4 linked regions of the Homo sapiens genome follow. The protein of the gene in region 4 purifies or fractionates together with the protein of the main gene of each other region. This does not show direct contact. Each region holds a gene or a part of one and is shown on either strand. Other genes may lie near its edges.

What was found.
Region 1: the proteins of CYB5A (region 4) and AGPAT4 purify together in Homo sapiens (affinity purification with mass spectrometry; 2 studies listed by BioGRID and IntAct, with this or other methods). This does not show direct contact.
Region 2: the proteins of CYB5A (region 4) and RABGAP1L purify together in Homo sapiens (affinity purification with mass spectrometry; 2 studies listed by BioGRID and IntAct, with this or other methods). This does not show direct contact.
Region 3: the proteins of CYB5A (region 4) and ENDOD1 purify together in Homo sapiens (co-immunoprecipitation; 3 studies listed by BioGRID and IntAct, with this or other methods). This does not show direct contact.

The regions. Positions count from the first base shown.
Region 1 is NC_000006.12:161,262,622-161,271,785, reverse strand, and holds part of AGPAT4 (1-acyl-sn-glycerol-3-phosphate acyltransferase delta), read left to right. Parts: intron 1-9,164. UniProt on the Homo sapiens protein: Converts 1-acyl-sn-glycerol-3-phosphate (lysophosphatidic acid or LPA) into 1,2-diacyl-sn-glycerol-3-phosphate (phosphatidic acid or PA) by incorporating an acyl moiety at the sn-2 position of the glycerol backbone.
Region 2 is NC_000001.11:174,217,793-174,226,956, forward strand, and holds part of RABGAP1L (rab GTPase-activating protein 1-like), read left to right. Parts: intron 1-1,332; 5' UTR 1,333-1,365; coding exon 1,366-1,503; intron 1,504-3,179; coding exon 3,180-3,372; intron 3,373-9,164. UniProt on the Homo sapiens protein: GTP-hydrolysis activating protein (GAP) for small GTPase RAB22A, converting active RAB22A-GTP to the inactive form RAB22A-GDP. Plays a role in endocytosis and intracellular protein transport.
Region 3 is NC_000011.10:95,126,778-95,134,241, reverse strand, and holds the end of ENDOD1 (endonuclease domain-containing 1 protein precursor), read right to left. Parts: intron 5,866-7,464; coding exon 4,663-5,865; 3' UTR 1,597-4,662; downstream 1-1,596. UniProt on the Homo sapiens protein: May act as a DNase and a RNase. Plays a role in the modulation of innate immune signaling through the cGAS-STING pathway by interacting with RNF26.
Region 4 is NC_000018.10:74,248,909-74,254,690, reverse strand, and holds the end of CYB5A (cytochrome b5), read left to right. Parts: intron 1-1,025; coding exon 1,026-1,107; 3' UTR 1,108-3,845; downstream 3,846-5,782.

The sequences.
Region 1 (9,164 bases), on a different chromosome or scaffold from region 4:
AAAATTTCACAGCAAAAAGCCTAATGGAATAGAACTGAAAGGAAAAAGAGCAAGACTTCCTCAGAAGCACAGCCAAAACAAAAACAACAAAAAACCCAAACCCAATAAACAAACAAAACACTGTCTGATATTCAGATGCTGAGTAGAGGTTAAAGCAGTTAGCAGCTTTGGCCTAGGGAAGGTAAGTGGAGCTGTGAGTATAAAGTAAACGTAGGGTCCCATGGAAGAGGCTGACAGAGGTGACACCCAGAGGGTGAGTCAGCCGTCATTTTATTGGGATTTTACTGTCTGCAAGGCTCTGCTGTGAAGTTGGTGAAGAAGGCAGCAGTTGTAGTCTGTGCTCTCAAGCTTAAAATCCACCAAACGGGTGGCGAAAAGAAGAGCAGAGCACCCAGCTGGAAGGAAGGGGGAGGCAACAGCCAGTCAAGGAGACGCAATTAGTATGAGAAGAATACTAGAGAGTCTTCATCCTGCTGCTGAAGCTTTATAGGAGAGGAGGCAGACGGTTCAAGGGAAGAAGGAGAGGGTGTCTTAGATAGCAAAGGTGGATGGTAAGAAATGGATCATGGTTCAGGGTTCTTAACTCCAAGAAGGGAGAAGTCAGTCTTTAGTATAGAAGTAGAGCAGGTATACTCTGTGCTGGTTGAAAGCATAAGTAGATGTAAATTGGGGACAGAAGTTTTTCTTAATCAGAAAAAGAAGGACTGTTAGAAGACTGAACAGAAGGCAGAATCCTTCCTAATCCAATACTTTTTTAGCTTCAGCTTAACAACGAAAGGCCAGACTTACACTAGACTTTAAACAGGTATGAAACTGGGGAAGACGCAACCAGGAACTTACCCGGAATGTCATCTTCATAATTCCTGCCATTGCCATTGTTTTAAATTATTGGATGCTCAAATGAGGGTTTGGTAAATGTCACACGTTTTGTGCAGTCTCCTTTATTCTGGAAAGGAGGTCTGATGGTTATGGGACAAAGCCGCATTCACATTTATTTTTTTTTTGAGATGAAGTCTTGCTCTGTCGCCCAGGCTGGAGTGCAATGGCGTGATCTCGGCTCACCACAACCTCCCCCTCCTGGATTCAAGCGATTCTCCTGCCTCAGCCTCCCGAGTAGCTGGGATCACAAGCATGTGGCACCACGCCCAGCTAATTTATTTTTTATTTTTTTGTATTTTTAGTAGAGATAGAATTTCACTGTATTGGCCAGGCTGGTCTCGAACTCCTGACCTCAGGTGATGCACCTGCCTTGGCCTCCCAGAATGCTGGGATTACAGGCGTGAGCCACCGTGCCTGGCCCACATTCACATTTCTGAATGGTGTTTGACCTCTAAATCTTTGGTGAAACGCCTTTCATCACTCCTATTTTGAAATATAATCATAATAATCATGTAACATTTCCTAGAGCTTGGGCAACTCAAATTCATTATTCTTTGTGTGAGAATCAGTTTGGAAAGGAAGCGCTGGAACTCTGAAACCTGGCTTCATGCATGGGCTTGGGAAGGTCTGCAGTGGCTGCCAGGCTGTAGGAAAGAGGAAGCTTAAAGCATGAACTCTTTCTTCAACAGCTGTTTATTACGTGTTTAATAGGTGTCAGGTCCCACAGATGCAACTGTGAGCAAAACAAGATACAGTTTAAATAGTTATAGTTTTCAAATGGGTTTACAAGGGAAACCCCATGACTGGCAGATACCCATTTTCTTCTAATGACTGAATAAGAGGAAATATCTTAAAAGGAGTATAATTTGTTTCAACATTGTCATGGAACAATCCATCTACCTGTCTTCTTTTCCTTGGCACACTCTTGCTCCACAAAGATTTCCCATTGGTTTCATTGTTTGTCGTTATCTTGTTTCTCCGATCTAATTTGCTCTACTTCTTCCTTTGATCCTAAGTCCTACCTTTCAGTCACCATTCCTTCATCCATTCACACATACATGATACATCCATCTGTCCTCTATCCACCCCCAATCCCTTCATTTATTCAACAAATAGTGTTGAGTATCATGTCTCAGGCACTGTATATTATAGATATAGCAATAAACGGGAAACTGGTTTTTCCTTAAAGAAGCTTAAGAACTATCAGGAAGACAATGTGGAGACAGCCTCTAAACCATGGGGGTATGACTTTTTTTGGGGGGTGGGCAGGGTCTCGCTCTGTCACCCAGGCTGGAGGGCAGTGGCGCCATCATGGCTCACTGCAACCTCTAACTCCTAAGCTCAAGCATCCTCCTGCCTCAGCCCCCCTCCCCCAGCAGCTGGGACTGCAGGCGTGAGCCACCGCGCCTGCCCTGGCGGTATCACTTCTAATAGAAGCATTTATTGGCCAATGAAACAGGATACTTCTTTCATTGAACAATTTTATAAATTGTTCACACACAGCATAAACTGTGCTGGGCAGGGAGGGATCAAGTGGTTAGCTGTTGACTGTTGTCCATTTTATATATTTTTTGTACCTTCCATGCTGGTTGAGCATAAGGATGGTAAACATTTGTTAATTAACTAAATGGGAAGAGTGGAATTTCTAACGCAGGAGACACAGAGGAAGAGAAGGCTTGTGTATTCTCTTTCTGAAAGAACAATCTGAGAGAGAGAATCTCTCAAGGTTCCCATTCATAGTGAATTACTCATAGATTTCCAGGTGACAACAGCTCCCCCCACATCGACTCAAAGTATAGCATTTTAAAAAAGAAAAACTACCTGCGTCCAATTACATACCCATTAGTTCACTGAATATCCTCATGTCCTTTGGAGCTGATTTCCCATAATACACTGCAAGTCTCTGTCTTGTTCTGATAAAAACAAGTGGGTTTCAACCCCCTACAGCTTTCTTAATAGTAACAGCAGTGCATCCAGAAACTAGTGGTGGCTCTAGAGACCCAACACGAACAGTGTTGAGACCTCGTTGCAGCACTTTCTCTGTGTTTTCTGATGTCATGAAACTCTTCTTAGTAGAATTATTTTCCCCCACTTAAGTTCCACCGTCAGCCTGGAAATTATATGGACAACATGACAAAGTTCCTCTGGAAAACCACACTCCTCTGCTTGGCTGACCTTGGGAGAAAACATTTAGCAAGTTCTTCTTTTTCTTGGTTATTTTAAACTCAGATGATATCAGCATGAAGCTGTTCCTAATAACTCTGGTTGGCACGGGCATCTCTGCTCTGTTTAGGTTAAACATCATAACTACTTCATGGTCATTTCTGTGTGGGATCCTCCAAGACGAGAGGTGCATTTTGAATTTTATGTTAGTTTGAAGCCAGACACTAAAATTCCTGTAAGGAGAGGGGAACAACACACACCAGGGCCTGTTGGAGAGTGGGGTGAGGGGAGGGAACTTAGAGGATGGGTCAGTAGGTGCAGCAAACCATCATGGCACACGCATACCTATGTAACAAACCTGCACATTCTGCACATGTATCCCGTTTTGTTTTTTTATAGAAGAGAAAAGAAATTCTTGTAGGAGATGATGCCTCAGTCTAGTTTATGCCAGGTAACCTGCAGAGGTCATTAGAGACACTGAGGTGACTGGCTGACTTACAGGATATGCAAGAATGATGACAGCCTGCCTTCACTGAGGGCCTCCTATGTGCCAGTACATGGACTTCACATTTATTAACTCATTTTAGCCTCATAACAAAGCTAGTGTGTGAAAACTCTCATCGTGCTCCATTTTACAGAGAGAGAAAGTAAAGATGAGGGAGATTAAGCAGCTCAGCTAGGTCATAAGAAGGAGCAGAGCTGAGACGTTAACCCAGATCATCTGGGCTCTGCTTTCCCCTGTACCTTCACACCTTGCCATGGCATATTCCACAGTCTGTCTCCCATGCCCAGTGCAGAGCCTGGCACATAACAGATATGTGGTAAATTTATTTTTTAGTTTTGTTTAAAATGTTAAAAGTGAGACTGGTCTTTCTTTTAAGAGGCCAGTCTCACTTTGTTGCTCAAGCTGGCCTTGAATTCCTGGGCTCAAGCAATCCTCCCGCTTCAGCTTCCCAAGTAGCTGGGACTACAGGTGTGTACTAACATGCCCAGCTAATATTTTTCTTTTCTTTTTTTTTTTGAGACAGAGTTTTGTTCTTGTTGCCCAGGCTGGAGTGCAATGGCGCAGTCTTGGCTCACTGCAACCTCTGCCTCCTGGGTTCAAGCGATTCTCCTGCCTCAGCCTCCTGAGTAGCTGGGACTATAGGGGTGCGCCACCACACCTGGCTAATTTTTTTGCGTGTGTATTTTTAGTAGAGACAGGGTTTCCCCATGTTGGCCAGGCTGGTCTCGAACTCCTGACTTCAAGCAATCTGCCCAGTGTGGCCTCCCAAAGTGCTAGGATTACAGATGTGAGCCACTGCGCCCGTTCCCCAGCTAATATTTTTCAAATAATGAACAAATCTCTACCGTGTAGACCTCTGCATGCCTTTCATCCCAGTTGTTAAGAACAGCAAAATTACTGCAAGAAAGGGTAGTATTTTAGAATTTGGAGAAAAACTAACAGCAGTACTTTATAAGACAAGCTACTATAGTTTTCAGGGAGTGTTGTTTTTATTATGGTTTAGCCAGAGATGGTGGGAGAAGGGAAAGGGCCTTGTGATTAAAACCATCTGAGTGACAATGCAGTACATACATTAAATTAAAGATGAACTCTTCTCAAAACCAATGTGTAACCCAGGATTGAACTTGACTGAGCAGCTGCTCTCAAGGACACCTGTGGTGGCTGCTCTCAGAGTTCCCAAGGCGGTGGGTGGATGGAGTCAGAGGCTTTCTGTTCTTCAGTGGACTTTCCACAAATCCACCACGGGGTTTAAAGGCAGATTATTATCTGCAAAGACCCTGCCAGTGCTTATCTTAGATCAACTCTGAAATGAGAATGGGAGACTTGAATTGATCCTGGAGTGAAATTTGGTCTCTTGCCCATCTCCATGGGCTCCTCGTGAGCTGTCAGTCTTCTGTGGGTAGAGGTTAACCGAGGCGGATGAAATTTTAAAGAACTATCTGTCTATGCAAGCACATCTTCTTCCCAGGATACTGCAGCCATCAGCAGACAATCAATGCAATCATCTCAGACTGTGTCCTGCGTCCCAGGAGTAAGTCATCAGGCTCATTTCTTTTCTTGTCTCTTTTCTGCTGGGGGAAGGGCAGGTTGCAAGGCGGATGGTGAGCAGATTCTTCGGCCTTTTGTGTGGGTAGCCTGCATAGGAACCATTTCTATGCCTGTGAGTCCATTTCTAGCATCTGCCTCCAGCCTCTGCTTTCCTGACGCTCTCCCATCACCCCATTCACCCTTCATAAAACAGTCACTCTTTCTAGATGCATAATTACATGCCATGACAATGATTACAGTCCTCTCTTCATAACTGCACTGGGTGCTCATTCATGGCATGGAGGTATGATCGCATCGTTTGTAGCATAGAGCAGAGTACCCAGCACTGAATATGTGTTGTGGCCTAGAGAAGAGATGGGCACAAGAAGTCAGGTCATCAGGGTTGCCTCATCGCTGGCCTCCTGGCCAGGGCCTCAAGGGTGACATTCCTTGAGGGCGAGGTGTTTCTCAATCTCGATGTTGAGATTTTGGGCCCATTAATCCTTTATTGTGGAAGAGGCCAACCTGTGCAGAATCGGATGCTCAGCCACATTCCTGGCCTCTAACTGTTACATGCCAGGAGTAGTCACCCCACTCCTACTTGTGACAGCCAAAAATCCCCTAGAGGGACAAACTTGCCCACAGCTGAGAACCACTGCTTGAGGGGGAATTCCCGGCTCTGTCAGGTACACTCAGGAATCCGGTTGGTCCGATCAAAGCAAACCCATTTCTGAGGACTAATAGGGTCCTAACCAAAGTGGCAATTCATTAATTTAAATGAAGAAATACTTTACATGGGAATTGAAAAATAATAGTAAACCAACTTAAAAGTAGACACGTGGCCGTAAAGTATTCAAATATTTAGTGCTTTCTGCCCTGATAAGTCTGCGTGGGGGTCATGCTGGCACCAAGGCAGCCCGGTGCAGTGAGGAAATGGGCCAGGCTCGGTGGCCTGATAGGACCCCTTCCACACCCAGATCTGTGCAGACAGGCCCTCCTCGTTCCCCTCCCCACCCACCAGCTAAGGGAGCCTCCTTTTCCAAACCTCTCTGGAGTGAACAGATTAACATATCTCAAGAACAAATTGAGAGAGGCACTCACAAACCTGCTCCCACCTGGGGATTTCATTACTGTTTCCTTGACCTTCACAGTGAGTGCTGCGCCCCTGCAGTCCAGCAGTGGGTACTAATCCAGCACCCAGTCCAGCAGTGGGTACTAATCAGCACCCAGTCCAGCGGTGGGTACTAATCCAGCACCCAGTCCAGCGGTGGGTACTAGTCAGCACCCAGTCCAGCGGTGGGTACTAATCCAGCACCCAGTCCAGCGGTGGGTACTAGTCAGCACCCAGTCCAGCGGTGGGTACTAATCAGCACCCAGTCCAGCGGTGGGTACTAATCCAGCACCCAGTCCAGCGGTGGGTACTAATCAGCACCCAGTCCAGCGGTGGGTACTAATCCAGCACCCAGTCCAGCGGTGGGTACTAATCAGCACCCAGTCCAGCGGTGGGTACTAATCCAGCACCCAGTCCAGCGGTGGGTACTAATCAGCACCCAGTCCAGCGGTGGGTACTAATCCAGCACCCAGTCCAGCAGTGGGTACTAATCCACCACCCAGTCCAGCAGTGGGTACTAGTCCACCAACCAGGTCTCACTAGTATTAATTTGCCTCCTAGCATCCATCCCCACAGTTGCTGGTATTTCAAGCCTTTCTTTCCCTTTCCGTCCCTGGTGCTTCTCACTTACAGGAGGGGCCACCTTTACTTCCTTCCCAGGACCAGCACCCTGCCCTGCCTGAAGTTAGGCTTCAGCTCCCCAGCCCTGGGGGACTCTAGGGGTCCCATAACTAGTCCTGGGTGACCCTAGGGGTTCCATAACTGCTGTGTCCCTCCCTTTTATCTTCCCATCTCGCTTCTCCCTTCTCGCTTTCAGGCTCTCAAAGGTCAACAGAAGTGGGGTCAGTTATTCCAACTCCCCACCCAACTCCAGAATCCCCTTTCAGCGTTTCTTAGGGAGCCCGTGCATTCAGCCCGCAGGAATACAAAGAGGGAGCCGACCCTGCAAGTGCCTTTGAGGAGCCTGCTGCCCAGAGGGCAAGACGGAAGCCTCAGCGAGGGGTTCCCACGCAGTGGATAAGACTTGCAGGGCAGGGATGCGCGGGCACGCCAGGGGGACCACCTCACCACCCCTGCCCAGTCTGGGCTTCCTAAAATACTTCCTAGAGAAGAACAGCCCCCACGTTAGGTCTGGAAGTGGGGAGTATTGGTCCCAGTGTGCACGCTTCTCACGGAGTGCCAGAGACCAGAGGAGTGGGCCAGTGGGTGAGGTGGGACAGGGCAGGAGGCTGGAGTTTTCCTAGACCACAGAGGAATGAGGTGGGCTGGCGTGGCAGGAAGCAGAGAGAGGCTGAGCATCCTGCAGCTCTGGGAGGGGAGGCCCAGAAGAGGCACAGGTCTGAAAGCCAGGAGGGTTTGGTAACTTGTTGTATGGAGGGTGTCTTTGACGCCCTGAGATAGTAAATATAGGGAGAAAGAAGGTCACTTTCCAATCATATTCTTCCCAAATGGTCACTTATCATATTACACCTTATAAGGTGATCATTTATGTACTTTGTAATCAACATGTGTTACGCAGCACTTACTAGAAGCTGTCTGCTTTGTATAACACCTCATTTCAGCTTGCCCCCAGCCCTGTGGGTTGCCAATTATTTTCTCTAATCTAATTTGAAACTGAGGCACAGAGAGGTTAACTAACCCTCCCAAAGCCACAGAGCTAGCAATGCCTGAGCACACTGTGATTTTACTAAATATTGTAACAGAATTACATGGACTTGCATTTCATATTCTTGCCTTTCCTGAAATTTTCCTGAATTTTCTTTTAGGGTGAAAAGACTTCCCATTGTTTCAAAATGTGCAGAAACTTCCCATCACAGCCCCCCAAATCATGTGGAAATCTGGAAGTTACTTAAGACCAGATGATGTAATGAAGATGTTGTGGGGGTCACTGAAATCCTCATTTGGACTCCATCTCTAGAGGAATAATAGGGTTAAAGTTTGAGAGGAGGTCGGGGGAGAGGACCAGAGAGATATTTTAAATGTGCCTAATTCTTTTAATTATTTATATTCATTCCAATTTTTGCCACATTAGGACTTATCTCCTGCTTTCCATTCCTTCTGTCTTCCCCAATGGCTGAACTGTTGTCTTTTTCTTGTTTGTTTTTGTTTTTCGAGAGAGTCTCGCTCTGTTGTCCAGGCCAGAGTGCAGTGGCATGATCTTGGCTCACTGCAACTTCTGCCTCCCGGATTCAAGCAATTCTCCTGCCTGAGCCTCCCCAGTAACTGGGATTACAGGTGCCCGCCACCACACCCAGCTAATTTTTTGTATTTTTAGTAGAGACAGGGTTTCACCATGTTGGCCAGGCTGGGACTACAGGCATGAACTACTGCGCCCAGCCTGTTGTTTGTCTTTTTAAAGAGAGCCTGGTCTTCAGCAGCTTCTATATAGCTTTCCTCACCGGGGGAAATGCACCTTCCTTAAGCATCCAAGGTGGCTGGGAATCTTGGTGGTGGGGTGGGGTGGGGCAGGCAGGTGTGAGAAACACCCCGCCCACCGCCGCCGAGAATATGTCTGCCTTTGCTCTTTTTCCTTCTCTGTCTCTTCTGATGGTCTGATGGGTGGATGGAGGGTGGCTTGGGTCTGTCTCTTCTGCCTCTGGTCACTCGCCTTGGTGGGCCTTCCCTCGCTTTCTCTGGAATAGCCCAGGGCTTGCTTTGCTCCTCCTGGCCTCTCTTCCTCGGTCATTCCCTGCAGACAAGGACTGGCCACCTCAGCTCTCACGGCTCGCTGGCATCTTTCATCAGCACTGTTTATGACGTTATCCTCATGTTCTCCTAGAGGTTTTTTTCACTGGAGTTATCTTTTGAACTCAAAACAAAAGAGGCGTGTGAAATGTACCAGTTCAAGTCCCAAGAAGCTACCCAAAGGGTGCCCCTCACTATGAGGGTCTCACTCCCCCGTGGGACTGAAGAATAATCGGACCCAAACCTTCTGAGCAAAGGAAGAAGTGGGGTAGAGCTTGCAGTGGGTCAGAAGGG
Region 2 (9,164 bases), on a different chromosome or scaffold from region 4:
TTGATTTTTTATAAAGTTGGAAAGTAATTACTTTTTAAAAGATACACATGTAACTTGAAGCTAGACTCATTCTTTTTATTGCCAAGAGTAATGGTGTTAGTGTCACCTAATGGCAAAATGGAATATTGCAGCTATACTTATAGGCTATAATGAAAAGGTAACCTAATTAGAAAGAAAAATAACATTTCTGGGGGGATTTTAGGCATGGATCAGTAGACTTACTATGGCTTACAAGGTCCCGTGTTCTTTAGCCCTAGCCTGCTTGTCCTGCCCCTCTATCACATTACTCATTTGGTCACTGAGCAGATTGTGTAATAGTAGGGTTCTTTTTTGTCTTTCAGGTTTAGGCTCAGATATTTTCCTCTCAGAGAGCTTTTTCCTACCACCTTAATTTGTCCGTATACTTCCCATAGCTACTGTTTGTCACATTAACGTGTTTATTGTTTGCATAGCCTTTAGAGTGACTTGGAATCACCATTTGCTCCCTTTTTATTTGTTTTCTTACTAGTATGTAAGCCCCAGAAGTGCAGGCTACTTGTTTTCCTTATTCACTTAGGTAACCTCAGGGCTGAGTTGTGTCTGTTATATAGTGTATGTCTGCAGTTAAACTTAGTTGTGTGAGTACATGAACTTCTGGATATGATAGTGAGTGTTGTTTCTATGCTGTAGAGATCTATCCAGAAAACAGAATTACACTGTGTTTGATTACTGAAACATTATTTGCTACGTGAAGGCAATATAGAAGCTTTTTTCTTTTTCTTTTTGGTGTTAATAAGTGATAATGTGTCAGGAAAGAGAAGCTATATGTCTTAGGATGTTGAATTCTGTATTAGTCAACTTTAGTTACTCAGAAAAAATATTTGCAGGTACAATATTCGGTCTTGAGGAGATAAGTTTTTTTTTGAAGCATTTAGATTTAATTAATATAGCAGTGTCAGTGAATATGGTTTTGTGTCTGTGTGTGCATTTGTAGGTATTTCTAGTATCATTTAATTATTTCCTCTATTAAAAAGAAAACAGTATTTCTAAGAGAAATGAGAGTGAGTGTGTCAGGTAAACAGTGATAAATCTGGTTGAGATATGGACTGGTTTGTGTAAATTTTTAGGTAACAATATGGCTCTATTAGTCTGGAAACTTAGGATGAAGAGAGAGTACATTTCCATTAAGTGGCTCAGTCCAAGAAGGTAGCCTCCCTAACTTTGAGATAATTATCTAGCCAGCAGGATTCTTCTTCACATAAACCATTTTTAAAGCTTTATTAGTTCATGTTTTTAATTAGTTCATGTTTTTAATCAGTAGGTTTTTTTTTTTAATCCCTTTTGTTTTTCCAGGTGGTTGTGGGAAGAGAAGTTTGCAGAACTGAAATGGAGGTCAGAGCTTCATTACAGAAGGTTAGTGGATCATCTGATTCTGTGGCTACAATGAACAGTGAAGAATTTGTTTTGGTTCCTCAGTATGCAGATGATAATTCTACAAAACATGAAGAAAAACCTCAACTGAAGGTATTTTTTTCTTTTCTACATATGGTATAATTTTTAATTAAAAACTATTTGAAACTTAGGAGATGTGTAAAATGCAAAGGTTTTTCTCAAGTGCTGACTTTCAAAATAAAATCAATGTTTGATTTATCCAGACCCTAATTATTTGGTTTGTGTATTTTAAAAAGTTCTTGCTTTTGGTTGTTTACCTTTTGATTTGGAATTTTAGGGGGAAGAATAAAAGAAGAAAAAGAAGAGAAAGGATTTTTTGGTGAATTAGACATAATGGTTAAATTTTACATTACTTTATCTGGATGTTTTTGTTTCTCTTACTGCTGGGTTTTAGAAGTTAATTAAATGTTTTGCTTTCACTTGAGAGACTTTTTTCTTTATGATTTTTATGTTTTAAATCAGCTGGTAACGTTCCGTTGTGTGATTTAACAGTCGACTTGTCTAAATGTTTTTAAAGCATATCTTATATTTTTAGCATTTGAGTTTTTATTTAGATATGGTCCCTTTTTCACTTCTGTGTTGCACTTTCTAAGTCAAAGAAAAGGAAGCAAGTAAACTCAGTTATATAGGCTTGAAAATGGTATAACTGTCTTCTAGAAACAGGAATAGGAAAAGTAGTTAAAAGTGCTATATATTACTTATGACTTTTATTTAGTATTAACTATGGCATCAAAAGTGTATTAATATATCAGTCTAATAAAATATATTCTGAAAATGAGATTACTAAATGTTTATGTTGAGAATATATTGTTTTATAATTTTATTTAAATAATCAGTGGCTTTATTTTTAGATACCTGTATTTTAGCATTATTGTGTTTAAGACATCACTTATTTGCTTAGGCTTTGTGTTTCACCTGCCTTTGAGAAAACTATGAGTCAACTTAAGTGTAAGGAAATTAGCAATATTCATCTTGGGAGCTAGCCAACAATTTGTAAAGAAATCAGAAATATGGTTATGCTGTGCTAACAAGAAATATAACCTTTTAAATGATATTCATAATAGACCCGATTTAAATTTACCTATTTTTTCCTTTAGACATGTAAATTTAAGGTTATCTGATTTTTAGGGTGTGTTCCTAAAAAAGAAAAAGAAAAAGAAGGGCCAGGCGTGGTGGCTCATAGCCTGTACTCCCAGCACTTTGGGAGGCCAAGGTGGGCAGATTGCTTGAGGTAAGGAGCTCAAGACCAGCCTGGCCAATGTGGGGAAATCCCGTCTCTACAAAAAATACAAAAATTAGCTGGGTGTGGTCGTGCACGCCTGTAGTCCCATCTACTTGAGAGGCTGAGGCATGAGAATCGCTTGAACCCAGGAGGCGAAGTTTGCAATAAGCTGAGATTGCACCGCTGCATTCCAGCCTGGGTGACAGAGTGAGACTCTGTCTTTAAAAAGAAAGGGGAAAAAAAGATAAATACATCTCTGTAAATAGGATCTTATATAAAATGTAGTTGGAAACTGTCTTAAGTGTTTTATAAAGAATCCTTTTGTGAAACTAATAATCTTCCTCTAATTTAGTTTTATAACCAGGATTTTAATGTATTATATATGTGAAACAACTTCTTAGTATTTTAGTAACTATATTTAAATATTTAGATTGTTTTAATTTCTTCTAGAAATGAAATACTTTCATAAAATTTAGCTTCAGAACTATGGTAGAATTGAAACAGAATTGTCTTGCTGTGTCTGTAGATAGTTTCTAATGGTGATGAACAATTGGAAAAAGCCATGGAAGAGATTTTGAGAGATTCCGAGAAAAGGCCAAGCAGTCTTCTTGTTGATTGTCAAAGTTCCAGTGAGATTTCAGACCATTCGTTTGGAGATATTCCAGCCAGCCAAACAAATAAGCCATCTCTTCAGTTAATTTTGGATCCGTCTAACACAGGTACTGTATTGAATTCTTAGAAACTATTAAAGAAATGGGATAAAGTAATAGTGAAAATTTTAAGATGAAAATCAGAAAAAATTGTTAGCTCTTCTCAAGCTTTCAGTTCTTGTTGAGAGTTTCCACTTCGGTGTTATGTTTCTGCCTATATCTCTGCCTATAAAAATCAGGTCTTAATGTTCTTTGGGAACAAAGACTATGTCTGGGTCCTCATTTTACCCCTAGTACTTCATGCATGGTAGGTCCTCAACAGATACTTACTGAACAAATGAGTAAATACTTGGGTGTCACAGAATAGTGTAATGGAGATAGTCTTTCATGTGATGTGCCTTTTTGCTCAGTTTCACTACACTTATTTAAAGTTATATTTAGTAAAAACTCTAAGTAAAACATATCAATTCCAACAGTGTATTAAATAATAAATACATCTATGAATAATTAGGATTTGTACTTTGAATACTAGCTTATAAGTCAAGATGCTTTTGGGTGCAAAAATAAATAAAACCAAAACCAGCTCCAACTTCAGCTGGCTTAAACACCACAGGTATAATTTGATCTAGGCTCTGATGGTGTTTTTTTGGTAACTACTCAGCTCTGATCTTGTCTATGTTACCTTTCTCCTTAGCTGGTTACAAAGTAGCTACCAGCAGAAACTGGTAGGTAAGGGAAGGTGACCTGTTTGTGCCTGGTGGCAAAGAGAAAGTCTTCATTCTTTTACTGATTTTTAAAATTTCTTTGGTGACACGATCTCATTCTGTCATCCAGGCTGAAGTGCAGTGATGCTGTTCAGCCTTCTGAGTAGCTGGGTGTGTACCACCATGCCTAGCTAATTTTTTTTTTTTTTTTGTAGTGATGGGGTTTTGCCATGTTGACCAGGCCGGTCTTGAATTCCTGGCTTCAGGTGATCTGCCCACCTCAGCCTCCCAAAGTGTCGGGTTTACCAGTGCAAGCCATTGCACCCATCCCTGGCCTGTTTTACGGATTAAATAAAAGTTCTGAGTTTTACTCTGATTGGACCAGTGAAACCATTTTCTAGTAGTGAGGGAAATGACATGAACTGATAGCTGTAGGCCTGGGTTACATTCAAACCTGTAAATAAGTCACTCTGACAGAGGGGATGGGATTATCCTAATTGGCTTAGGAAACTCGTGATTCATTTCTGAACCAAATGAACCTTGGTACAGGGTAAGTATAGGTATAGCCAAACTGTTACACAATAGGGCTGTGATGCATTTATGTAGGGAATGTAATCACAGTGCCTTCCATGGCAAGGATGATTAAGCATTAGAAAAATCTTTCAGTGTGGTTTACCACATAAAGTGGTGAAGAGTGAAAAAGTATCAGTAGATAAAGAACAAGCACTGGATAAAATTTAAAATTTTACATGTATATGCACATGTAAAGTTCTTGGAAAACTTAGAAGGAAACTTGCTTAATCAAATATCTATCAAAGTCTTATGTTTTATGCTGAAATTTAAAATGCGTTACCATCAAGATATATTGAAACAGGAGCAGTTAGGGCATGATAGCTATCACCATAGCTCTTTGACGTTGTACTAAAGAATCCAGCCAATGCAAGATGACAGGAAAAAGAAATGAAGTGTGATTAGAAAAAAAGTGAAAAAATTCTCATGATTGGTAAAGTATTTAAGAAAGTGAATGGATAAGCTATTAGATTTAAAGACTTTTTGCCAGGCATGGTGGCTCATGCCTGTAATCCCAGCAATTTGGGAGGGTGAGGCGGGCAGATCACTTGAAGTCAGGAGTTTGAGACCAGCCTGGCCAACATGGCAAAACCCCGTCTCTATTAAAAATACAAAAATGGCTGGGCGGGGTGGCTCAAGCCTGTAATCCCACCACTTTGGGAGGCCAAGATGGGCAGGTCACGAGATCAGGAGTTCCAGACCAGCCTGGCTAATATAGTGAAACCCCGTCTCTACTAAAAATACAAAAATTAACTGGGTGTGGCAGCACATGCCTGTAGTCCCAGCTACTCAGGAGGCTGAGGCGAGAGAATCGCTTGAACCTGGGAGGCAGAGGTTGCAGTGAGCCAAGACTGCACCATTGCACTCCAGCCTGCGTGACAGTGAGACTCTGTCTAAAAAAAAAAAAAAAAAAAAAAAAAAAAATTAGCTGGGCAGGGTGGTGAACACTTGAAATTCCAGCTGCTCAGGAGGCTGAGACAGAAAAGTCACTTGAACCCAGGAGGTGGAGGTTGCAATGAACTGAGATCATGCCACTGCACTCCAACCTGGGCAACAGAGTGAGACTCCATCTCAAAAAAAAAAAAAAAAAAAAGATTTAACGACTTTTAGGAAGGTTAGCACCAACAGTAGAAAATAAAATTGCCATTCATAATACCAACAAAAATAATAGGTAACAAGGAAGAAACAAAAATTTATGTAAAATTTTAATAAAATTATAAAATGTTATTGAAGGAAATGAACACCTGAATGAATGGGGAGAGATGCCATGTTGATTGATAGGAGTCAACCTTGAAAAGATGTAACTTATCTCCAAATTAGTCTGTAACTTGGGTGGGAATTTCAAATTTTCAGTTATTTTTATAAACATTCTGAAATGTATCTGGACAAGTAGAGGTACACAGGTAGCTAAGAAAATTTTTAAAAAGAATATTATGTATTAAGATAGACTACAGAGTTACAGTGATTAAACCAATGTGATATTGGCTTGTTATAGAAGTGAATCACTAGAACAGGGTACCAGAAACAAACCTATGTATATAAAGGATTTCAGTATATGACAGAATTCGCTTCACATACCACTGGGGGAAATGGTAACTATGCAGTAAATAGTGTTGGGACAGTTGCATCTTTGAGTGCAATAAAATAAAATTAGGTTCCTTAGTTGTACATAAAAATTATTTTTAGTGAATCAGATATTTAAAGTGAGAAATAAGCCTGTAAGAAGAAAACAATGGAGCATATTTTTGTGATTGTCAAGGTAGGAAAAGCCAAATCACAAAAGGAAAAGATAGTTGCATATCATTATAGAAAAATTTAAGTCTGGCCTGGGCATGGTGGCTCACACCTGTAATCCCAGCACTTTGGGAGGCCAAGGTGGGTGGATTACTTGAGGTCAGGAGTTCAAGACCAGCCTGGCCAACATGGTGACACCCGGTGTCTACTAAAATACAAAAATTAGCCGGGCATGGTGGTTCATGCCTGTAATCCCAGCTGAGAATCTGGGCAGGAGAATGGCTTGAACCCAGGAGGCGGAGGTTGCAGTGAGCCAAGATTACACCACTGCACTCCAGCCTAGGCAGCAGAGTGAGACTCCATCTCAAAAAAAAATTTTAAATCTGAGTGCAAAAGACCATTTAGGTTATCTATTTCTTCTTGAGTGTACTTTGGTGTTTTCATCTTTCAAGTAATTGGTTAATTTCACCTAAGTATGGGGATAGAGTTGTTTCTCTGTTATAGAGTAATATTCTCTTATTATCCTTTTAATGTCTGCAGGATGTGTATTAATATCCTCTCATTCCTGATATTGACATGTATTACATATACATACATTGAAAAACCTACCAGTCTAATAATTTTGCTTTCAACAGCCATACGTATATTTCCTTGAGCACTTTAAAAATGCTTTTCCAGTGTCTTCTTGTCTCCATTGTTTCTGATAACAAATCTGAAGGGATTTGAATCATTGTTCTCCTATTTGTAATATGTTATTTTTCTTTGCTTTCAGTACTTTTATTTCATTGTTTTCAGCAGTTTGATTATCTGTGTGTGGTTTTCTTTGAGTTTATCTTTTTTTTTTGGATCACTGAGATTCTTGAATCTGTAAATTTATATCTTTAACCAAATTTGGGAGTTTTCACCCATTATTTCTTGGTAATTGTTTTGTTTCTACACTAATCTCTTTCTTTTCTGGGACTCAGTAGACAAAAATGGTAGACATTTCCATACCGTTCTCACAATTCCTTAGGCTCTTTTCATTGTTTTCCCTGTGTTCAAGCTCACTGACTTTTTACTTTGTTAATCTCCATTCTGCTATTGAGATCGTCTGATGAATTTTTAATTTTAGATATTGTATTTTTCTGTTTTTAAATTTACATTGTTTTTTAAAGTTTTTTTGTTTCTCTGTGGATAGTTTTGATATTTTTATTCATTACAGGTGTTTTCACGTTTATTTTATGGATTATTTATGGAGCAACTGGGACATCTTGGGATTGGTCTGTGGATTATTTTTTCACTTGAGAATAGATCACCCTTTTATGTTTGTTGAGTAATTGGCTTGTTCCCAGAGTTTTCGAATCTTATGTTTTGAGACTATTTCTTGTTAAAATCCTCTGAAGAATGTTGACTTTTTTTTTTTTTTTTTTTTTAAAGCAGACATTCCACCTGGTTGTGTCCAAACTGCAAGATCTGTCTTGCTTTCTGGTTCCAAAGTATTTTCAATTCTCAAAACCTTTGCTGTGCTTCTTCAGTCTGTTCCACATGCATACACAGTTTGCTAGTTTACACGCAGAGTTAGGGGATTATCTTCTTCAGCTCTCTCCTCTCTGAGATTTCCCCACACTCTCTGGCTTCCTTGGGCCATTTTCCTTCTACCCCTGTGTTAGAAAGACAGGTTTCTTTCTTAGAGTTTTTGCTGCTTTGTGCTGTTTTGCAGAATCATATGTCTGGAGCACTTTATGACAAAGTGGTGAGAGAAAAGAGAGGGAAAAATAATAGAGTTTTTCTTTTCCATTTTTGGGTTATAGGGGCCTCTTTGCTTTGGTATTTTAGCCTTTGAGACACATTTCTTTTCCTCCAGATTGTAGATGCTTACAGTACCACCGCGACTACCAGCATTTCAGGTAGTTCTGTGGTCGGGGCTAGTGGTAGAACTGGGAGAGAAAACAAAACAGAAACAAGTCATGATTTCTCAGATACTCTCTAGTTTGCAGGGACTTCTTTTTCTGTTATTTGGCTGGAAAGATTGGATTTCTTTGTTTTGTTGCTCACTGCTATTCTGCAACTCGGACCACCCTTAGGTCAAAACTGGGAGGTGATGATGAGAAAAATGGAAAACTCACCACTGTAATAGAGGTTCAGATTTTCACTTTCCTCTCCACTCTGGCTGTTCCTATTTACTTTTTAAAAGGAGGCTGGATGTGGTGGCTCACGCCTGTAATCCCAGCGCTTTGGGAAGCCAAAGTGGGCGGATCACTTGAGCTCAGGAGTTCAAGACCAGCCTGCGCAACATAGCGAAACCCAATCTCAATAAAAAAAGAAAGAAAGAGTCCTCCGGTCGTTGCTTTTTATATTCTGTCGAAAGTTTTCAGGTATAATCTGTGGGAGAGATAACTTATAACAGTAGGAGAGATAAATTGTAACAGGCTTATCACTTCAATTTCACTGGTCCAGTTCAATAATCTTGAGTCTGTTTTTGCTTCAGCTGTTTTGAAGTTCTGCTATTAAGGGCATAGTCACTTAGAATTTTTGTGTTTTCTTAATGAATTGACCATTTTAGCCTTGTGAAATATCCGTTTTCTTTTTGTTAAAATTCCTTGTCCTGAAGTCTAGTTTTTCTTATATTAATATAGCCACTTTTGGTTTCTTATGATTAGTATTTGCATGGTATATATTTTTCTTTTTCCTTTTTTTTTAAAAAAAATTTTCATCTATTTTTATCTTTAAAGAGTGTTTCTTGTAGATACCTTTTTAAAATCCAGTTTAACAATCTCAGTCTTTTAGTTGGGTTTAGACTAGGATAAGTAAACTACTATCTGTGAGCCAAATTCCACTTCCTACTTGTTTATGGTGTGGCTTGCAAAGTAAAAT
Region 3 (7,464 bases), on a different chromosome or scaffold from region 4:
GTTTACAAAGCTAGTTTCACTTGATCTTTACAAAAAACCCTATGGGGTGATATTTTTATTACCCACATTTTATTGATAAGGAATTAAATCTCACAAAGGTTTGAAGACTTTCCCAAAAGTGTCACAGGACAACTAAAACTAGTTAACCCCAAGGCCCTGTATCAGAATGATCACCTGCCTTTCCCCCACCAACCCACACTCACCAGGCACAGTGTCCAAGAGGCTCTGCCTCTTTCTCAATGCCATCTTTGGGTTGCCTCATCCTACCTGCAATGCTTACCTTCAAAGCAGATGCTGACAATGTGTTTGGATTTTGGAGGCTTGATTATGAGATAAAACTGAATAGTGCTGGACACATGTTGAGTTTCAGTTTTCTGACCCTTCTCTTTTGAGACTCCAGGTCCAACCCTCATCTGTACCTTCAGATTCATGGACACCACTGATGAGGTTCTGGCTTGCTTCATTTTCATTCATGACTTTGACTCCCAGACCACACTTTGATCCTGGTTCTTCCAGCGTTGATCTAGAAACATCCTAACCTCTAAGGCACCATCAAACCAATTTTGTCCAAGAAGTGTAAATATCATTGCCCACAATAGATCTAGCAACAATTAACATTTGCTGAGCACTTACCATGTGCCAAGCATGGTAAGTGATGAATGCTTTATGTTCATTAACTCATTTAATGCTCATAGCAACCCTTTGAGATAGGTACTCATAATTGTATAGATGAGAAAGCCGAGGTGAGTAACTTGCTGAAGATCACACAATAAGTGGGGAAGCCAGGATTTGTGCCTACATCATTTTGACTCTAGAGCGTGGGCTCTTAATCATTAGGAAGTACTGGCCTCCAGAAGTCATCTTACATCCACCTCCTCACAATGGATAATTGAGGATGACAAGTGGTTATAAGCACTTTCTTTGTTGAAATTTAAGCTTAAAAATTGATTTGGAGTTAGACATCAATCCATGACCTGGGGGAAAATACCTACAAAGAGAGACAATGGGAAGACTGAGAACCCATTAATGAAAAGCAAGCAGTCCACACTATATGGCTTGTAGTGTAACATTTGGACAAACACGTATTCTGTGGTGAGCTTAGGCAAGATGCTGCCCACACTGGGAAGGCAGCCAAGAATTACTGCCACCTCCACCCAAGAGGATCACCCTACTAAAGGCCACAGAGAGGACCAGCCCCCGTCAGAGACTGCTTGTAATTTCTCTCACTGTGGGAGCTTCCTAATGAATAAACAAACTAATAAAAGTATTTCTATAATTTTCTATGTGATTCAGATTCAGTGAAGCAGTAAGTCTTTGGTGCTTAATTATGCAAGATATCAAAAACACTTATTGTCCCAAATACTTTGCAGAGCAATAACATTAAAAAATAGTTCTAAGTCCTGTTTCACTGATCCAGACCTCTCTGTTTTTTCATGTATGATGCAAACTTTTAAAGAAATGAACAAAAGCCAGTCACTGGAAGCTGCTTGAATTAATGCGGATCAAGAAGAAAATGGCAACAATTCACAGTCCCCAAGCCTCATTTCAACTATTAGGATTCTCCCCTTTTAGATATTTTACAGAACTGCTAACGAGTTGTCAGTAATTACTTTATTGAGCATCTGCAAGGTGCACATCATTGTACATAGCTTGAAAATGTCAAATTGAGTTTTGTCACACCCTCTGTAAAGGCTTCCCTAATTTCCATGGTTTCGTGGTTTTTCTTCCTCTGTTCCAAGGAACATGTTATTAGTACCTTTACTGCAGCACTTACTTGTCCTTCATGTGTTACGATTGTACCATGTGTTCTCTCCACTAGGTTTTGAACTCCTCAAAGATGAAATCCATGCATTGTTCATCTCTGCAACCTTGATGTCCAAATACGTGTTTGACAGATGAACGAATGACTGAATAAATGAAGGATGGTTCACTTTGGTTCCTCCTCCCAACTACCTAGTCTGCATTTAGATCGAAGTGCTGATGCTGAGTGAGAAGACAACATTCAAAAGGCACAATGGAAAAGAGAAGTGTCCAAAGGCATAGCTGATCCACAGACTAGAAAATCAGCTCCATAATGAGGAAGAGGCTAATCCCAAGGCCTCAGAACATAACAGAGCCACAGCAAGATCTTTAAGCCAGAGTTGGGGTTCATAAACCCCAACCTCTACCTCAAAGCCCAGCGTAGCTCATTAGGAACAGGCCAGCAGTCCAGCCACCTGCTGTGGCTTCACGTCCAATGCAGATGGTTCTAGAGACCCACAGGCACAGCCACACTAGTAGCTCAGGGCAGTGGGTCTCAGCCACCTATCCTTACTGATACTTTTTGCTTTATTGTCCCTTTTTAGGTTTCAAAACTGGCCACCCAAGAATAAATAGACACTAAACAATTGGATGTGAAAAAGAAAGACATTCCCCAATGGTTCTCAAGAAGCCGTTTGGATGCTGTGCTCCTTACATGGTGCTAAGGGGCTCAAGCTGCCGTGGATGCCCTTTTCGGACCTTTCAGTATGCAAATATGTGCTAGGAGGGAATTAAGTTTCCATGGGATGCAGTAAGCATAATGTTGTACATGGATGGCTAATTGTTTTCATCACACATGCCAAATCCAACTGCTTTGTCAGGGCCTGGAGTCTGTTTGATGAATGAGGAAATCTTGCCATGGTCCAGAGAGGCAACTGAATAATAGCACGAACTTCCCATGTCTGACATCTCAGGTGTGATGGGACATGTGCAAACAACGTTGGCTCCTAATCTGCTCTCAGCTAGCCATGAAACTAAGGGCTAGCCTGTTGCCTCCCAGGGCCTTGGGTTCCTTATCAAATAATAGTTTGGCTGGACTGTCCCTCTGGTCACTTCTAAAATTCCTTTTCTTTATCCAGCAGGATTCTTGACCAATCAGTACCAAGTCAAACCCTCACCCTTCCATTTACCTTCACACTGCTGAAATAAAGGGACATCCAAACTTTATGCTCCCTAAGACAAGAGTTGGTAAAATACTGCTTTAAGTTTCTTAGCTAAGCCTGGTGCACATCTCCCTAGCATGGACCCATGCGGTGCTCATACTCCCTAACCTTGCATCACAAATTGATCAGGATGGCAGCTTGCTGGCTGCTGTTCTACTCTGGGTGTGCCTCCGCTATTTTTCTGCAAAATGTAACTCTTGCTACGCTCATGTTTCTCATCCATCGACCCCATGCAAATGGTTGACATATTGTTCTCTCCTTGTTGGGACCCCGAATTTTTGCATATAACTTTCTGATTGATCCTGGGCGGTAGCCCCAAGATCAGTATTTCATACTTGGCTGTTTCTACCTCTCAGCAATTCTTTAAAACATTCAGAAAAATCCAGGTGATTCCATCCCAATTGTGGGAAGCAAAGTTTGGTCCCTCTTGTTACCATTTTTTAGTGCAAGATTTAAAATGACAAGTGCTTGATCAAAAAAATTTTGAGAATGAGCTCTCACATTTAATTTGTATTAATGGGGGAGTTATGTTTGTAGCCTCAAACACACTGTAAAAATAATTTCCTAAGATATAATTATTCTTAAATATTTTATATATTTTTTTCAGAGATGGCCACAATAACTTTTATCTTTATTTTGTGGCTCTTTTCTATATAGTTGTATCAAAACAACCATTTAGGGACATAAGTCAGAGTATTTTTACTGTGCTGGGTACTTATTTCATGCATTAGAAAAATCTACTATGTTGCAGAATATGAATTTTCATGTTAGCTTAACATATAGATCTTTCAGTTCAACCTTGTCAGGCAGGGATACACGTCAAGTTAATCCAAGCTGGACAAAAGATGTCCTTGGATCTGCAGCACCTACTAAGAGCAGGGCTGTCCACCTTCTCTTCTCTTCTTTCCACCGGAGAGGACTGTATTATACCATTCAAGGGGCCCAAAAAAAAAAGAAAAGAAAACTTTGCCCTTCAATTCAAACTCTGTTATGCCACATTTGGCATAAAATGCTTACCATTACCTAAAAATGATTTTTTAAAAAATGCTTATCATTACCTAAAAGAAAAATGTAGCAAAATTCAACTTTGGAGGAAAATGAAAACTGTACATATCCTTGAGAACCACGGAAAGCTAAGAGATATAGAAAATTGTACATTCCCACAAAGTTATTTCAACAAAGAGGCATTATCTGCATTCCACCAAGGTCAGTCGAGTTGAGGAGAAAGAGAAGCAAATGCCAAGAAATTGGCTGCAGATTTTTTTTTTAATCTGTTTTGCCTTAAATCACAAAGAGCAATGGGAAGAACAAGCTCCCTTTCTCCTTTTCTCAGACACCTTTGGTCTAAAGTTGTTCTTTTTCTAGTTCTTCCCTCCCCTGTAATTTTTAATTATCAGAAATAAATACCAGTGCATTTCAGGTGGTCGTCTGTGTTAGAGTGCATAACTGAAGTTATTAGTGGCTTGGGAGTTTGCACATATAACTGGAGGTAAACAGCAGATTACTACACCTAATCTCACCCTGAGCATTTCTCCTCTGTCAAGTCTAAATTCTGCCATCTTCTTTTGCAAAAACAAGCAGACATCCCCACCAAAGGCCAAAATATAATGATAACTGACAGTGAACAGAAACCCATTGTAAAGACAAACTATTCCAGCTTTCAAATTCACTGTGACTGGATACTATTAGTTTTTTGAGTTTATAACTCCCCAGAATTGTCAAAAGTAACCTTGTAGCCAATCCGCTTGCAGACACTAAAAACCACCTGAAATAGGCCACCCAGGGTACCAAAAGCAGTGTCAAAGAGCAGTGAGACAGTGCCACCAAGGCCCAGTGCAATGTCCTTGCAAACAATTGGAATAGCGCCCATGGTGTACACAGGGAAAGTGGCCACATCCACAAGGACACGGACAGGGATGCTCAGAACTCGGCAAATGGCCTTCAGCAGACAACAAAGGATCCGGAGGAGAGCCCTGATGACTTTGGCCACGACCTTGAGCACCTTCCAGGGAATGCTCACCAACTCTTCCCCAATGGCCATGAAGTATGAGATGGTGGCTGAGCCCAGGCGGTAAAGGCAACTTTCTATGCCATTAATCACCTGCTTGGTAACACACCACAGGAAATAGACAATGTTCTTCAGGATTGCTACCACAAGGTAATAAATTAATTGAAAAAGCTTGATGAATGGGGTAGCAATGAAGCCCATGAGTTTTCCCAAAAAGCTACTACTTCCCTCAGATGCCTCTGGAGGCAACAGAGTAGACCTCTTGCTCCTGGTGCTAGAAAGGGGACTAGAACTCTTTTGAGATTGTACCATTCGTTCTTCATCCTGGATTTGGTTAACCACTTCCAGGATTTTTTTCATTTTCTCTGTGTCTTGCTCAGTTTCACCACAGTTGTTCTGAAACAGCTGAGGGTTAAATGGAAGCAGTTTCTGAAGATCTTTTACCATCACATCTTCTATGATGTCACTGTCCCGGGTGTGCTTGACAAAGCCCATGGCCCAGCCTCCTCCAGGGACAGCACAACAGGCTGCCAGCCAAACAAACTCAGGGACTGCCACTTTGTCTTTAACTCTGTAGTCTGAGGGCACTGTGCCTGTGAGGATATATAGGTCTTCCCCACTGCCACACTGTGGGGTCAAAGCCCGGTCCATTAGGCTGTGGAGATTCACATACCACCGTTCCTGGAAGGACTGAGTCATTGGGGCTGAATTTGTGAGAGTAAATGTGGCCACCTGGACATCACTGCTAAGGGAGAATGGGTAAAGCTGTCCTCTTTGGTAATCAGAATCAAGGTAATCTGTATTCAAGGCTTGCTTGCTTCCCAGGCTGTTCACAGAGGTGATGGCCTCTGCCTCATTAATCGCCTCCTCAAGGTTGCTGTTGGGGTCATCGATCTGCAAGAAGAAAACAAGTGGTGAGATGCATCCCTGCTTACAGCACAGAGGCAGCACTAGAATCATCCTGCCCAGACTCTGGAGAAGTCCCCACTGGTCTATTACTTCAAACGCTTGAGTTTGGAAGGACTTGGTTCTCTGGCACATGGACACTTCATTCTGATATACCAAAATCCTGGTGTTTCAAAGCATCTTTCAGATAGGCTGTTTCCTAGTCTATTACCTGTGTTTATCCCACCCTGCTCTACAGTAACACCCCTTCACTCACACTCACACCCACCATCGTGATGTTCTTTTTAAAATCTGTTGTAGTCTGGGGCCAGGTGCGGTGGCTCACGCCTATAATCCTAGCACTTTGGGAGGCTGAGGCGGGTGGATCATCTGAGGTCAGGAGTTCAAGACCAGCCTGGCCAACATGCTGAAATCCTATCTCTACTAAAAATACAAAAATTAGCTAGATGTGGTGATGGGTGCCTGTAATCCCAGCTACATGGGAGGCTGAGGCAGGAGAATCACTTGAACCGGGGAGGCAGAGGTTGCAGTGAGCTGAGATTGCACCATTTTACTCCAGCCGGGGCAACAGAGCAAGACTCTGTCTCAAAAAAAAAAAAATCTGTTGTAGTTTCATGAACTTCATAATTCTTTTTTGGAATACTTTTGCATGAGCTTCAAAGTAATTCTAAAAAAGAAAACAAGGGGAGAGTAGATCTCAACAGGCCCATAAAGCCAGAACTGCAACTCAGTTAATCAGCCACCAATGTTGGTTGCAATTTAATGCACATGTTCCTAATGAATGTTTACACATTTTCGGATTTATGAAAAATAACCAACTCTAATCAGCGCATTTAAATTACATGGGGGAAAATGTACAGTCTGGTGTCAGTTATTAGGTATTTATCAGGCAAAACTAAAATTCAAATTAGACCAGTTGCTGTTTGAACTTAATCTCCCCAATATTTGCTATGACTAACAATTCATTTTGTGTCTTGGTCAATCTAGACATGTGCTATATATCAATTGCCATCAATATATACATCCTTTCTTGGTTCTGCTTTCTTTATAAAAAAATTCAATATTATTTATGATTATTTTCATCTTATCTGAAAGGACAAAAGGAAAGTGCTTAGGATTAATTTAGGATTATGTCATTATCCCCCAAACTAACTTGTAAATTCTTGACACCAGAAACCATGTATATTCCCCCAGAACCCAGCCCAAGGCCTGACACATACTAGAATCTCAAGGCATTCTTGTTGATCTTTATGCCCTGGGGCGGCAGTATTTATAATAGCAGCAAGTGGAACCATCCCACATTTTAAAAAACAGGGAAAGGTTTCGTAAATAATGTTATGTTATATCTATCAAAGAAATAACTCATTAAAAACCATTATGGCCAGGCATGGTGGTTCATGCCTGTAATCCCAGCACTTTGAGAGGCCGAGGCAGGTGGATCACCTAAACTCAGGCATTTGAGACCAGCCTGGGCAACATGGCGAAACCCCATTTCTATAAAAAAAAAATTCAAAAAATTAGCTGGGCATGGTGGTACACACCTGTGGTCCCAGCTACTCAGGAGGCTAAGGTGGCAGAATCGCTTGA
Region 4 (5,782 bases):
AAAATTAGCCGGGCATGGTGGCGGGCGCCTGTAGTTCCAGCTACTCGGGAGGCTGAGGCAGGAGAATGGTGTGAACCCAGGAGGCGGAGCTTGCAGTGAGCCAAGATCGTGCCACTGCACTCCAGCCTGAGCAACAGAGCAAGACTCTGTATCAAAAAAAAAAAAAAGATTCAAATAGAAATTATAGCTCATCCCTCCTTTGTCCCTGATTTGATTTGTAATCTGTAATTTATAGATCGAAATTCTATGCATCAGGACTGTAAATTTAGGCTTTTTTTTTTTTTTTTTTGGTGAATTTAGACCTGTGGACCACACACCAAGTAGTCTGGCCATTCTGTTTCTTAACCCTTTAAATCCACTTCAGCACAGGTAGTAAAGATTAGATTTTCCAAACCTAAGCTTAAAGCTGTGGTGTTAATGGCAGTGTTAATCATCACAGGGCCCATACTCTTCAACTTTACAGCTGGTGGGGCATTCATTTTTTGGTTTGTTTATTTTTGTTAGTTTGTTTTTGAGACAGTCTCGCTCTATCACACAGGCTGGAGTGCAGTGGCGTGATCTCGGCTCACTGCAACCTCTGCCTCCCAGGTTCAAGCGATTCTCCTGCCCCAGCCTCCCAAGTAGCTGGGATTACAATTAGCTACTGCCACCACGCCCAGCTACTTTTTGTATTTTTTGGTAGAAGGTTTTTACTATGTTGGCCAGGCTGGTCTCAAACTTCTGACCTCAAGTGATCCGTCTGCCTTGGCCTCCCAAAGTGCTGGGATTACAGGCGTGAGCCACTGAGCCCAGCCAAGTGGGGCATGAGTTTTCTCATAAAGCCAGCAGGGCAGAGTGATTCCTAGTATAGCAGGGCATGTGTTACACTCATGTCACTTTTAGCAAATCCACGTTGCCTTTTCAGCAAAATTCATTACAGAGTTAAGAAAAACATGCCCTGGTAATTTTCTGTTAGAAGGAGCAAAGATTTTGAGTCCACCACAGTGCACATCATGTCAGCATCATTGCTTTTTGTGTCTTTCTAGTTGGTGGACCAACTGGGTGATCCCTGCCATCTCTGCAGTGGCCGTCGCCTTGATGTATCGCCTATACATGGCAGAGGACTGAACACCTCCTCAGAAGTCAGCGCAGGAAGAGCCTGCTTTGGACACGGGAGAAAAGAAGCCATTGCTAACTACTTCAACTGACAGAAACCTTCACTTGAAAACAATGATTTTAATATATCTCTTTCTTTTTCTTCCGACATTAGAAACAAAACAAAAAGAACTGTCCTTTCTGCGCTCAAATTTTTCGAGTGTGCCTTTTTATTCATCTACTTTATTTTGATGTTTCCTTAATGTGTAATTTACTTATTATAAGCATGATCTTTTAAAAATATATTTGGCTTTTAAAGTATGCACCGTGTTTGCCTGTTTGGTGTATAATTGTCTTTAATGTTTAGAATCTGGTTATTTAGAGGATTCCTTCAATGTGTTACTCATCCAGACCCACAGAGGCCATATGACTGGAGGTGCGGGAAATAGGTTTGAGTGTCTCCTTTCACATCGTCACATCTCATTGAGTAACCATGTATTGTATGCTTCCGATATAGTTTCTTTTTTTCAAGGAAATTAAGAAAGGCCAGAAATTATAGTTTAAGGATTTCTAATAATTGTCCTACTTGAAATAGATCTTAAAAAGAAAGTAGCGGCTGGGCATCGTGGCTCACACCTGTAAGCCCAGCACTTTGGGAGGCTGAGGTGGGTGGATCACTTGAGGTCAGGAGTTCAAGACCAGCCTGACCAACATGGTGAAACCCTGTCTCTACTAAAAATACAAAATTAGCAGGGCGTAGTGGCGCATGCCTGTAATCCCGGCTACTTGGGAGGCTGAGGCAGGAGAATTGCTTGAACCCAGGAGGCAGAGGTTGTAGTGAGCTGAGATCGCGCCGTTGAACTCCAGCTGGGCAACAAGAGTGAAACTCTGTCTCAAAAAAAAAAGAAAGTAGCCTACAGGGCCTATAAGAGAGACTTCTTATCTTCACTGATTGAAAAACATCAGCAACTTAAAAACACATGAACCATGAGAGGGCATCGCAACTGTCCATTCTCTCAGCTTACACGTATCATTGCAAAGGCACTCACAGCTTCATAGGTTCTAAAGTTTTAAGAATTCCTCATTCAGAGAGTAGAATTGTTTGTAAACTCTTCTAAGGAAAGGCTGGTTTTCTAATTTGTAAGGAGATTGTGGGACATTGGAATCTGATCTTTGAAGAAATTTAGCGGCTAGTGTCAAGCTCTGAAGAGTTCTGGTGTGGCTCTGTCTCCTCCTGGGGGCTCTAAGGGGCTGATTCAGTCATCTTACTTCCCATTTATTATTCTCTGCCTTATGTGTTATTCTTTTAAATGTGGAAACTTGAAAGCTGAATTTGTTAGAACCCAGTACATGTGTCATTGGCTGTGACTGCATTTGCACTGGCATGAGCTGACAAACCACGAGGTTCTTCAGAAGTGACCGCGTGCAGTGGAAAGGAATTGTGTTGTTCTTACAGAGTACAACCTTTATAATCAAATAGGATGCACCGCCTTTGCCTTCTTTAGTCACTGAAAGTTGACAAGTAGTTTCTATTTCAAAATAAATTACAACACTTGTTAAGGGACCTATGTAAATATTTCAATATTTTTGGTTGTGATTTTTAGCTATAAAGCTTCACATTTTAGTAGTTTTTAAAACATTGCTCCTAAATCAACTATGAAGTGAATCGAAGTGGGTCAGTCGTACCTTAGATGACATTAAAGGGTTAACTTGTAAATCATTTTTAAGATGTTGAGTAATAGCATCTGTATATCGTTAAGAAACATAACAGTTGAACTTTGACATTTTTATCAGTGACTCAGCAATTTGCTGCTGTGGCTGGCAATGTTTCTTCATGTGTTTTGGGAACAACATGTGGAGTAAAGGAGAGTTTACTTCCTAATTTTAACATTTACAGTTTGTGCAGCCAGACTCTCAAGGAAAGATATTTGACACTTTTTTCTCTATTGCTTTCCCTTCAGAGAGGTGAGAGACTTCAGAGGCTGCCCTTTCTTTTCATCTGCTGCTTGTGAAAGGAAAACATCTTGGGCCCCCAGAATCACTAAGGAAAACTCAAGCTGGAAACTGCTTAGGGCCAACCTGCCTCCCATTCTACTCAGTCAAGCCTCTGCTCACTGAGAGAGAGGCATATCTGATTGCTTCCTTTGGAAAGGCTAATCAGAAACTCAGAAGAATGCAACCCTTTGTGTCTCACCTCTCTGTGACCTGGAAGCTCCCTCCTGCTTTGAGTCTTCCTGCCTTTGCTTCAAGGTGTCCCGCCTTTCCAAACAGAACCAATGTACTTCTTACATATATTGATCAATGTCTCATGTCTCCCTAAAATGCATAAAACCAAGCTGTGCCCTGACCACCTTGGGTACATGTCATTAGGACCTCCTGATGCTTTGTCACGGGCATGTCCTCAACCTTGGCAAAGTAAACTTTCTTTTTTTTTTTTTTTTGTTTTTGAGACAGAGTCTCACTCTGTCGCCCAGGCTGGAGTGCAGTGGTATGATCTTGGCTCACTGCAACCTCCGACTCCCAGGTTCAAGTGATTCTCCTGCCCCAGCCTCCTGAGTAGCTGGGACTACAGGCGTATGCCACCATGCCTAGCTAATTTTTTTGTATTTTTAGTAGAGACGGGATTTCACCATGTTAGCCAGGCTGGTCTTGAACTCCTGACCTCAGGCAATCCACCCGCCTCAGGCTCGCAAAGTGCTGGAATTACAGGCATGAGCCACTGTGCCGGGCCTATTCCTTGACTTTCTTAATAAAGTTGTTTTCACTTTGCACTGCGGACTTGCCCTGAATTCTTTCATGTGCGAGGTCCAAGAACCCTCTCCTGGGGTCTGGATTGGGACCCCTTTCCTGTAACACAGGGACTGTATTGGGTGCACGTGTGTCAGTTGCTCACCTCCTGGGTTTGAGTTGATGATTAGGGCTCTGGTTGGAACAGGCATCTCCCTTCCTCTGGAGGTGTCTAGATGAAGGCAAGTGGAAGTTCTGGAAGCAGATTCTCCTTTGCAGCGTAGCCTTTCTGAGAGGTGTGCAGACACAGATGGCGTCCGGATCCTCAGCTTCTACCTAGATTGTGGGAGTTTCCCTAGGCTGCTGTAACCAAGTACACCACAACTGGGTGGCTTAGAACGACAGAAATGTGTTCTCATAATTTAGAGGCCAGACGTTGTAAATGAAGGTTTCAGCTGGGCCACTCGCCCTCCGACACTCTGGGTGGAATCCTTCCTCACCTCTTCCAGCTGCCACTGGTGGCCAGCAGTCCTCACCTGGCGGTCCTCACCTGACAGTCCTCACCTGGCGGTCCTCACCTGACAGTCCTCACCTGGTGGTCCTCACTTCACAGTCCTCACCTCATAGTCCTCGCCTGGTGGTCCTCGATGTGGTCCTCACCTGGCGGTCCCCACCTTGTAGTCCTCACCTCGCAGTCCTTGGCTTCCGGCTGCGTCACCCAGGGCTCTGCCTCTATTGTCACTGACATTTTTCTCCCTTTGTGTCTCTGTCATAAGGACACATTGGATTACCTACCCCAGCATGACTTCATCTTAACTAATTACATCTTCATGATCCTGTTTCCAAATAGTCACACTGAGGTGCTGGGGTTAGGACTTCAACATATGTTTTTGGGGGACGTAGGTCAACCCACAGCACATTCTTTTCTCAAAGTGACCTGATGTTTATGCCTGCGCTTCTTCCTTTACTCTCTTTCAACTCAATTCCTCTTCTCCCACTTTTCAGGAAAGAGGCGATCTTAGCTCAGGCCACTCCAACAAAATACCTTGGACTGGGTGGCTTAAAAAGCAAACATTTGCTTCTCACAGTTCTAGAGGCTGGAAGTCCAAGATTAAGGTGCCAGCAGATTCGGCGTACTCACATGGTAGGGAGAGGAAGCAAGCTGTCTCGGGACTCTTATGATGACACGATACTACCCCACCTCCTCATACCTGCACATTAGGGGACAGGGTTTCCATATGGGAATTTGGGGGAGACATTCCATCTGTGACAGAGACCTATTTCTCACCCATCCTGAATTTTAATATTGGATGTGAAAGCTACTGTCAAACATGGTACATAGTGGGGTCGTGAGTCTCTGTAATAGAGACACTTCTTTAATCAAGGTACCCCACCCCAAGTCAGGCTTTGTGCTTTCCTTGTCTGGCGTGTGCTCTGCTGACGGTGAATCATAGAGTAGGAACGGGGCGATTTAGCCTTCTGGAGGGTGGTTGGAGTTCACATGGACAGTCAGCAGCAGGGGTGATGACATTGCATTGAGCAATATCTGTTCTACCATGCTTTCACTGTCTTTGATGAAGGCCTCCCTCCCTCAGGAGTGCCCTGGGAGACTGGTCAGATACATGAAATCATCTTGTGATATGGGTCCACAGAAAATCAAAATCAAATGTTTAATTTCACTGGTATGTGTACATTTCCATTATAGACAATGTGATTGGGAGGCAAAAGACTGTCATAATATTTTTCATTAGGATAAAACTGGGGAGAAGAAATAGACCTATGAGGTCAAGGAGAAAAAGGAACAATGTACAATTTCTTTCTACTAAGAGTGTTTCTGCATCTATTACAAAAGGGTAATGGCAAATTGCATTGATATTTAAATTCCACTTAGCAAATTTTAAAGAGTGATATTTCAGCTTTATTTTAAAATGTCAATATTTCAAATGTTGCATAACGATGCCCTTTGTAAATATTTAAACTC